Homo sapiens: one gene and its partner. The protein of the gene in region 2 purifies or fractionates together with the protein of the main gene of each other region. This does not show direct contact. Each region holds a gene or a part of one and is shown on either strand. Other genes may lie near its edges.

The links.
Region 1: the proteins of SCG5 (region 2) and CHAC1 purify together in Homo sapiens (affinity purification with mass spectrometry; one large-scale study listed by BioGRID and IntAct). This does not show direct contact.

The regions. Positions count from the first base shown.
Region 1 is NC_000015.10:40,951,940-40,956,454, forward strand, and holds the start of CHAC1 (glutathione-specific gamma-glutamylcyclotransferase 1), read left to right. Parts: upstream 1-1,531; 5' UTR 1,532-1,644; coding exon 1,645-1,875; intron 1,876-2,288; coding exon 2,289-2,324; intron 2,325-3,433; coding exon 3,434-3,835; 3' UTR 3,836-4,515. UniProt on the Homo sapiens protein: Catalyzes the cleavage of glutathione into 5-oxo-L-proline and a Cys-Gly dipeptide. Acts specifically on glutathione, but not on other gamma-glutamyl peptides. Glutathione depletion is an important factor for apoptosis initiation and execution.
Region 2 is NC_000015.10:32,683,106-32,686,916, forward strand, and holds part of SCG5 (neuroendocrine protein 7B2 isoform 1 precursor), read left to right. Parts: intron 1-1,451; coding exon 1,452-1,564; intron 1,565-3,756; exon of another isoform or gene 3,757-3,811. Other genes in the region: ARHGAP11A-SCG5 protein, read left to right, coding at 1,455-1,564. UniProt on the Homo sapiens protein: Acts as a molecular chaperone for PCSK2/PC2, preventing its premature activation in the regulated secretory pathway.

The DNA of each region.
Region 1 (4,515 bases), 8.3 Mb from region 2:
TGTGGGAAATGGAGAGAAAGCGAAAAAGAAAGGAATAACCAGAAAGGACCATTTGCTGGTAATTTTTTTTTTTTCCTGATTGGAAAAGTAATTCATGCTCCCTGTAAAAATCCAGACTTTTTCATTACTGTTTAAGTTTGATACTGAAAGTCCTCCTCTGGTGCCAGCCTCTGCTAACTGTTTAGGTATATTCTTCCAGATTATTTATTACACGAATACTTTTTGTTTTTAAAGAAATAGCTTTGTACTATACACACTGTTGTGCAAGTTTCCCACTTATATCTGCGACACCTTCGGAATGAATATGTGAAGTGTGAAGATCACGTTTAGTTTAAATATTGAATTAGAATCGAATGAGAAGCCATGTTGCACATTGCCCCTGCCAGCCATCTCCTGGCCAGTTTAGAGAGAAGGCCTTCAGCTGCCTCTGTTTCCCTTTTACAGTCAGTGACATCCCCTGAGGGCAGTCCCTTGCTGCGTATTGGGTCAACCCCCGGCGGCCTGTGGACTCGGCTGGGAGGCCAGAAGCCGAGGGAGAAGACCAGTAGCTGGCCATAGTCTTGTGGGGGCCTCACTGGGCCCTCCTTGCCCGCTGCTCCCGGAACCTTGTGCCTATGGATTAATCATTGCTGCAAAATCTCACGTCCAGGAAGAATTAAACCCATCGCCTTGGGGGCAAGACTAGCCTGGCTTTTGCATCTTTATAGCCTTTCTCCGCAGGTGCAGCCACCACCTCCAAAGTGACTGCCGGTCGGTCCAAGCGCTCTAACAGGCTCTTCCCCGAGCCTACCTGGGCTCGAGGGGTCCCACACCTGGTCCGGGGCGTAGCCCATGTGAGGCCTGCAAGCTCCGGGCGCCTGGCCTACCTAACTCAGCCCCGCAGTCTCTGCAGAACCCCCTGCAGCCCCGTGGCCCAGTTTCTCCATTTGCTCACAATGGCCAACGGCGTGAGGCACTTGAGCGGAATGCGGACGGTGCCTCCGACAGCTTTCCCGCAGTGCATGATCTCAGGAGGGGCCCCAGAGACGGAAGTTTACGACGCCCAGAGCGCTCCTTCTGGACGTGCCCTGGACTCGACTTGGGACTGAGTCTGTGCCGCCTAGGCTGGCAGGGACTCGGCCAGATGCACTAGCGGCAAGGCTGGGCTGACACCGCCTGGGACTCGCTCGCCGTACCTCCAAGGGGCCCAGGTCATGAGGGGGCGGCTGGGGAGACGCCCGCCCGGTGCCCGCCCTGGGCCCGGCGGGTGCCCCCTGCCCGCCGCCTGACGCAATCCGAGGCGCCCTTGCTGCATGCCGGCGCTGGAGAAACCTCCCCTGCCGTTGCATCACTCCTGCCAGGTTTGCCACAGAGGTGGAGCTGAACCAATCAGCGGGCGCGCTGGGCCCGCGGCGCGGTTAAGTGAGAAGCAGAATCCGAAGTTGATTGGCCAAAAGGGGATTTGCCCCACCCCAATCACCGCGGCAGCTGGCCGCGGTGGGCGTGGTCTCCCGGCAAGAAGGTTTAAAGGGCGCCTCCATGGGGGGCGCTCAGCTGGAGCTACCGAGCGGTGCCAGGCCAGGTGTGTGCGTCCGTCGGTCTTTCCGTGCCCACGCCGGAGACCAGCCCCGGAGGCCGCCTGGGCCTATCCCTGTGCCAGGCACCATGAAGCAGGAGTCTGCAGCCCCGAACACCCCGCCCACCTCGCAGTCCCCTACGCCGTCCGCTCAGTTCCCCCGAAACGACGGCGACCCTCAAGCGCTGTGGATTTTCGGGTACGGCTCCCTGGTGTGGAGGCCCGACTTCGCCTACAGCGACAGCCGTGTGGGCTTCGTGCGCGGCTACAGCCGCCGTTTCTGGCAGGGAGACACCTTCCATCGGGGCAGCGACAAGATGGTGAGCATCCAACCGTGCCCAGGGGAGTGAGGGGGTTGGGGGCGGGATACTGGGCGCCAGTGCCCTGGAATGTCCGGGGCTCTCTGGGCCAATAGAAAGAAATGTGTAAACCTGTGTCTGGGGTTTGTGGCTCATTTAAATGTATGTGCCCAGTGCATCACTGTGATGGCTGGAGTCTGTGAACCTGTGGATCCCTGTGTTGATCACCAACTGGGACCACTGACATGTCAGTGTTTCTGGACGTTTCTCCTACATCCGTGCATCGCTCCCCCACCTTCCCCTGCATGAATGGGACTCAGCATGCAGAGTGGGGCACTTGGAGGCCCGGGTCAGCGGGATTGATAAAGGTTTCCTTGCTGATGGCAGAGCTGATTTCTAACTTGTCTATTTCAAAATATTTCTTCCCTCCCTAGCCTGGCCGTGTGGTGACGCTCCTTGAAGATCATGAGGTAAGTGCCCGAATCATGAAGGGGAACCCTGGCCCAGTGTGAAGGGGGACCAGCAGAGAGAGCTCATAGGCTCTTGGCTGCAGGCTAGCTCTGTCTGATGCTTCTCTGGCAGAGTAGAAACGTGTTCTAGCTCAGTGCTTCTCACCAAATCACATGAGGATCTTGTTAGAATGCAGATTTTAGTTCAGTAGCATGAGAATGGGTCCTGAGACACAGCATTCCTAACTAGCTTACAGGTGATGCCACCACATCCTGGACCACACTTTGAGGAGGAATCCTGTCTTCCCTGGTACTAGACCACTTTGTCAACTGTTTTTTTTTTTTGTTGTTGTTGTTGTTGTTTTGTTTGTTTGTTTTTGAGACAGAGTCTTGCTCTGTTGCCCAGGCTGGAGTGCAGTGATGCAATCTTGGCTCACTGCAACATCTGCCTTCCAGATTCAAGCGATTCTCCCACCTCAGCCTCCCGAGTAGCTGGGATTACAGGCATGCGCTACCACACTCAGCTAATTTTTGTATTTTTAGTAGAGACGGAGTTTCACCATATTGGCCAGGCTGGTCTGGAACTCCTGATCTCAAGTGATCTGCCCACCCTCAGCCTCCCAAAATGCTGGGATTACAGGCATGAGCTACTGCACCTGGCCTCAACTATGCCTTTTTTTTTTTTTTTAAGACGGAGTCTTACCCTTGTCACCCAGGCTGAAGTCACTGCAACCTCCACCTCCTGGGTTCAAACGATTCTACTGCCTCACCCTCCCGAGTAGCTGGGTTACAGGCGTACGCCACCATGCCTGGCTAATTTTTGTATTTTTAGTAGAGATGGGGTTTCACCATTTTGGCCAGGCCGGTCTCGAACACCTGACCTGAAGTGATCCACCTGCCTTGGCCTCTCAAAGTGTTGGGATTACAAGCATGAGCCACCACGCCTGGCCTTTCAACTGTTCTTAACAAAGAGAGTACAAGGGCTTGAGGTACTGCCACCAGATGGCTCATCAGCCGACCACAGCCTCCCTTATAGAGCACAGTCCTGGGTGGGGGTGGCATGTTAGGATAGGAGAGGGAGCAGCAAGGAGCTGTCATGACTGACCCCGGGTGTCCCTATTTCTTCCCAGGGCTGCACTTGGGGCGTGGCATACCAAGTGCAAGGGGAGCAGGTAAGCAAGGCCCTGAAGTACCTGAATGTGCGAGAGGCAGTGCTTGGTGGCTACGATACCAAGGAGGTCACCTTCTATCCCCAAGATGCTCCTGACCAACCACTGAAGGCATTGGCCTATGTGGCCACCCCACAGAACCCTGGTTACCTGGGCCCTGCGCCTGAAGAGGCCATTGCCACGCAGATCCTGGCCTGCCGGGGCTTCTCCGGCCACAACCTTGAATACTTGCTGCGTCTGGCAGACTTCATGCAGCTCTGTGGGCCTCAGGCGCAGGACGAGCACCTGGCAGCCATCGTGGACGCTGTGGGCACCATGTTGCCCTGCTTCTGCCCCACCGAGCAGGCTCTGGCGCTGGTGTGAGGGGCTGAGCCCCTGCGGGGAGTGCTCATGTGGACATCAGGGCCAGACACCCACTCCAGTGCACAAGACAGACTTGCGACCGCTTGAGCCCACTGAGCAGATATGGTGGGTGGCTGGAGGCTTCTCTTTCTCAGTCCCTGCCTGTCTGCCAGCCTGCAGCTCTCCTGCTTGACACTGACTTACTACTTGAAACTTTATTTATTGCACCATGTTGGTGTGGTGGGCAGGTGGAGGGCCTGCCCTGGACACAGGGGCCCTGCTGAGCAGTGGCCCCATCCTGGAACTTGACCAGATTCCCCCCAGTGCTGCTGCTAACCCCACACCACCCAGGCCTCCACCTCCCCAGGGAGTCTCCAAGAGCCTCGATCCTCTGCTCACTCAGCCCAGCCATCCATAGCCCTGGGAATTCCACCTGCCAAGGATCCCAGCAGGCTGGATGAGGGATAGTAGGGCATGAGGAGAAGGAGCCCTGTAAGGACTGAGGCCCCGGCCAGCCCTTCTCCTCCACCAGTTCCCCAGAGCAGAGCTGGAGCTGATGCCTGGACACAGCTGCTGAGCCTGGCCTGGGCCTCTTACCCACTTGGTTGTTTTCTTGTCCCTCTGTCTGTCTGTCTATCTACTTGTCTGTCTGGGCCACTCCTGCCTGTGTGTTGGTCTATTCCTGGGAAGCTCATCACTAC
Region 2 (3,811 bases):
CACTGAAAAGTGGAGAGCCGCATTAGGGATTTGTTCAGAATGCTGATGACTTCCACACTAGCTGTATACTGCTAAGAGCTGAGAGACTGTGTACTGAAAGCTTAAGAGCAGTGTCAAGAACTAGACAACCTGGCTAATTGTAAATGGCCCCCCTTTCAGCATTGACTTTGATGTCTCATTATGTCTTTCAAATGAGACCCTCCTTCTTCCCCCTAACCCTGCACAAAATTCACAATCCCTCCTCTGTCCCCCTTTTTATTGCTGTTGTCTAAAATATATTAGACATGGGAAAAATGACTCATTTTTAGAGCATCATGCCTAGTAATAATAGAATTTACATAAAAGCAGCATCTGAGAGAGATAGCCTTCTTTCTTTGGTTTCAATGGAAAACTTGCTTGATTTCAAAGGGCAGTCATAGTATAAACTGTCAGTCAAAGGGAGATAATGGGAAGGGAACTAAAACATATTGCAAACCTATTATGTGCCGGGTGTTCTAAATGTAATCATCTCTATTCCTCACAGCAATCCCGTAGGTAAGTATTTGATTATTTGCATCTCACACATACATGAACAAACTTGGAGAGACCAAGTTAACTTTCCAAAGGAACTAAGCCTATCTATATCTTAGGAGCTGGGATTTGATCCTTGAGCTCTGCTCTTGTCTGACTCCAAAGCTTAAGCTGTTATCACAATAAAACACAACATCAAGTGCTGTGTGGAGATTGTTGTTGTTGTGTAATGTACTTTCTCCAAGAAGCCAAAGTAGTTTCTAAACTGCTTGCTCAGGAGAAAACAGAGTGGGTCATGTGCAACAGAAGTATGTTACCTAAGGAAACACTTGCTCTTGTAACAAATAAAAACATTGTATGGCTCAACGCAATAGAAGTTTATTTTTCACCCGTGTGAAGTCCTGCCAGAGGCGCGTGAGGCTGTAGTGCGGTGGATGGTTCGGCACCCCAGACTGCCATCTTTACACTTGACCCCCACAGTTGCCCTGGCAACATGTAACAAGCTGACCAGGAGATGGGGGTGGGGAATGAGGAGAAGTGGAGCATGGTATGAGAGGTTTTTATGCTTTTAGGTGATGTATTTCAATTCCAGGCCTGGGAATGGAATACATTACTTGTGCCCACATTCTGTTGGCCTCCACTCAGGCAAATGACTCCACGTGATTGCAAAGCAAGGCTGGGAAATTAGTCTAGCTGGGTGCTAAGGAGGAAAGGGAAGTGGGTTTGGTGAACAGCCAGTGAGTCTCTGCACAGGAGTGGGAGTTTGAGATGAGTAATCCTATCTAACTGGATCCTAGAGGGAAGGTGGCTGCTAGTGTTCTAAGTTACTACTGATGTGAACAGATTCTGACCTTTGGCTGCCTAGTTGTTTTTGATAAATTAACTCTTAGAATAATGATGAATGTCTTGGCCGTTCCTCAAAAACCTTTGGCTGTTTGCAGCAGATGATGGATGTCTAGAAAACACCCCTGACACTGCAGAGTTCAGTCGAGAGTTCCAGTTGCACCAGCATCTCTTTGATCCGGAACATGACTATCCAGGCTTGGGCAAGTGGGTAAGTCCTATCTCAATTGTTAGTAGATTTTGCACTTTGGTACTCTGAAGGTGCTGATGGCAGGGATGAGCAATATGGGCAGAAGGAGAGAAGAAAAATTATTTAGAAGCTAATTTTTCAGAAATCTCTGGTTGACAGAGCTTCAAGTCATGACTACTCAAAACCACACTTATGTGTCCAGGCAGCACTATACCAAATCCAACTAAAGAGACAGCAACCTAACATTGACCATAGTCTCCAGAGTCTTCTACTCTGGTCTGCTTCACAGCCTGTGTCATACACATCCTAAATTTCACCAGTGTTTCATGCATCTCTATAGGGTTTTATCAAAGGATATGATTTTTTTTAATTGACACAGAAAATTTGCAAATGTGATCTCTAAACTAAGGGAGATGATCTCTGCAGAATCAAGGGAATAAAGATGCCAGAGCTTAGAAACAGATATATATAATTCTGCTTTATAGAAAGAGAAAAAATATTCCGTGATGTGTAGCAGTGAGATTGCTGTCAGTCCTAGGTAAGTGCATATAGCTGTCAGTTAAGGGAGTTGTTTATAAGCACTTGGAAAGATAAATCATGACCATTTGGCATCAGTGTGCTAAAAACAAGTCTTGCCAATCTAATTATATTCTTCCATTTGCCAGCATTATTCATTTATTTGCCAGCTTGATGAGGGAAATGCAGTGGGCATGGTGCATTTGGACTTTTGCAAAGCATTTGACAAGATCGTTTTATGTTCCCCTATTGGAAGAGGTGGAAAGATACAGCCTAGGCAACAGAATGTCACCAAAATGGGGCTTGTTAAAGAGTCCATGTAAATAGGGAGGGAGATTTCACATGGTATTCTGTGTGTCTTAGCACTACCCCACTCCACATTTTTATCAATGTTTGTAATAATATAGAACTTGTACTTATCAGATTCCCAGAGGATGACATGAAGTTGGAAGAGATACCATCAGATGACAGAGTTGGGATTCAAGAAGATCCCAGCAGACTAGAACAATGAGCCAAACAAGATCAGAACTGAGTGGGGATATGTCTGTGTTTCTGTGGTTGGGCCAGATGCTGAAGCCATGGGAGAAAAGTGGGGAAATACCTAGGAGTGTTCCTTCACATGTAACAGTAGGTGGCCAGTACGTCTGTGGAATGAATGAGTGAGTGAATGAGCAAATATTCCAACTCCCTCAGCCCTTCTAAAGTCCTCATCTCTTCTTAGCTCATTATTGGCAGATGGCCTTGCTTACTGCTTTACTGGGAACACTGAAATTTCAAAACTAAACTCCCTCCTTTCCTCCTACATTGTTTTAGAGAAATCTTCATTAATGACCACTTTTATTTTTTTCAGCGTCTTGCTTTAACATGCATTGTCAGTTCCCTCTGTCTTCAACATACACACATTTCCTGTCTTAAAACAACAAAGCAACAACATTCCTAAGTTAATTTTGCTTCTTCCAATTTGCATTATTCCATTTCCTTCTTTTTCATAAACAGTTCTGTTTGGAAGAATTGGTTTGTGGAGCCACTTTCAAGCCTAGTAGTAGAGCTTAAACATGTTGAATTAAATAGAAAAACATCTATAGGTTCTCGAATAGGAGACTGAAATAATAAAAGCCTTCTATAAAAGAAGTTATTTTGATGGCATATTAAAGGATGAAGTAAAAGGAGAAGAGACTAACCCTAGACAGGAAGAAAATATGGGGAGTCATTTCAGTTATGATGACTGTGAACACCGTGAAGAAGGGTGAGAATCCAAGACATTTTAAAGGGGGAAAAACTAACTAGAATTGGTATACGGAATAAATATAACATGAAGAAGAAAGAAGAGATATGTCAGGTTCATATGAAATGGACAATATGAACTTTTTCTTTGAATGCATTTTAGAAAGAAAGAAAAGAGAGGAATAGAGGGAGGAAGGACATAAAAAAGAGAAGAGAGAGTGAGGGAAAGAGTAGATTGCGGAGGAGTACTGGGAAGAGATCCACAAGAGGTGATCGAAGCATTGCCAAACAGAAGCAAAAGCCAGGTTCGATAAGGCACAAAGAGAACACATTGAGCCTGCTGTGTTCCAGGCACTGTGCTAGATGCTCAGTATGCAGGAGTCATCAGGACATGGTGCTGGTCTTCAGAGAGCTTATAGTCCCACGGTTGAGATGAATTGCATGAAAATGAAATGAACCCAACTTAGCACCGCTCCACTTCATGTTTCGTCTGTATTCTGAGGGCCAGGGGCAATTATTAGGGAAGAT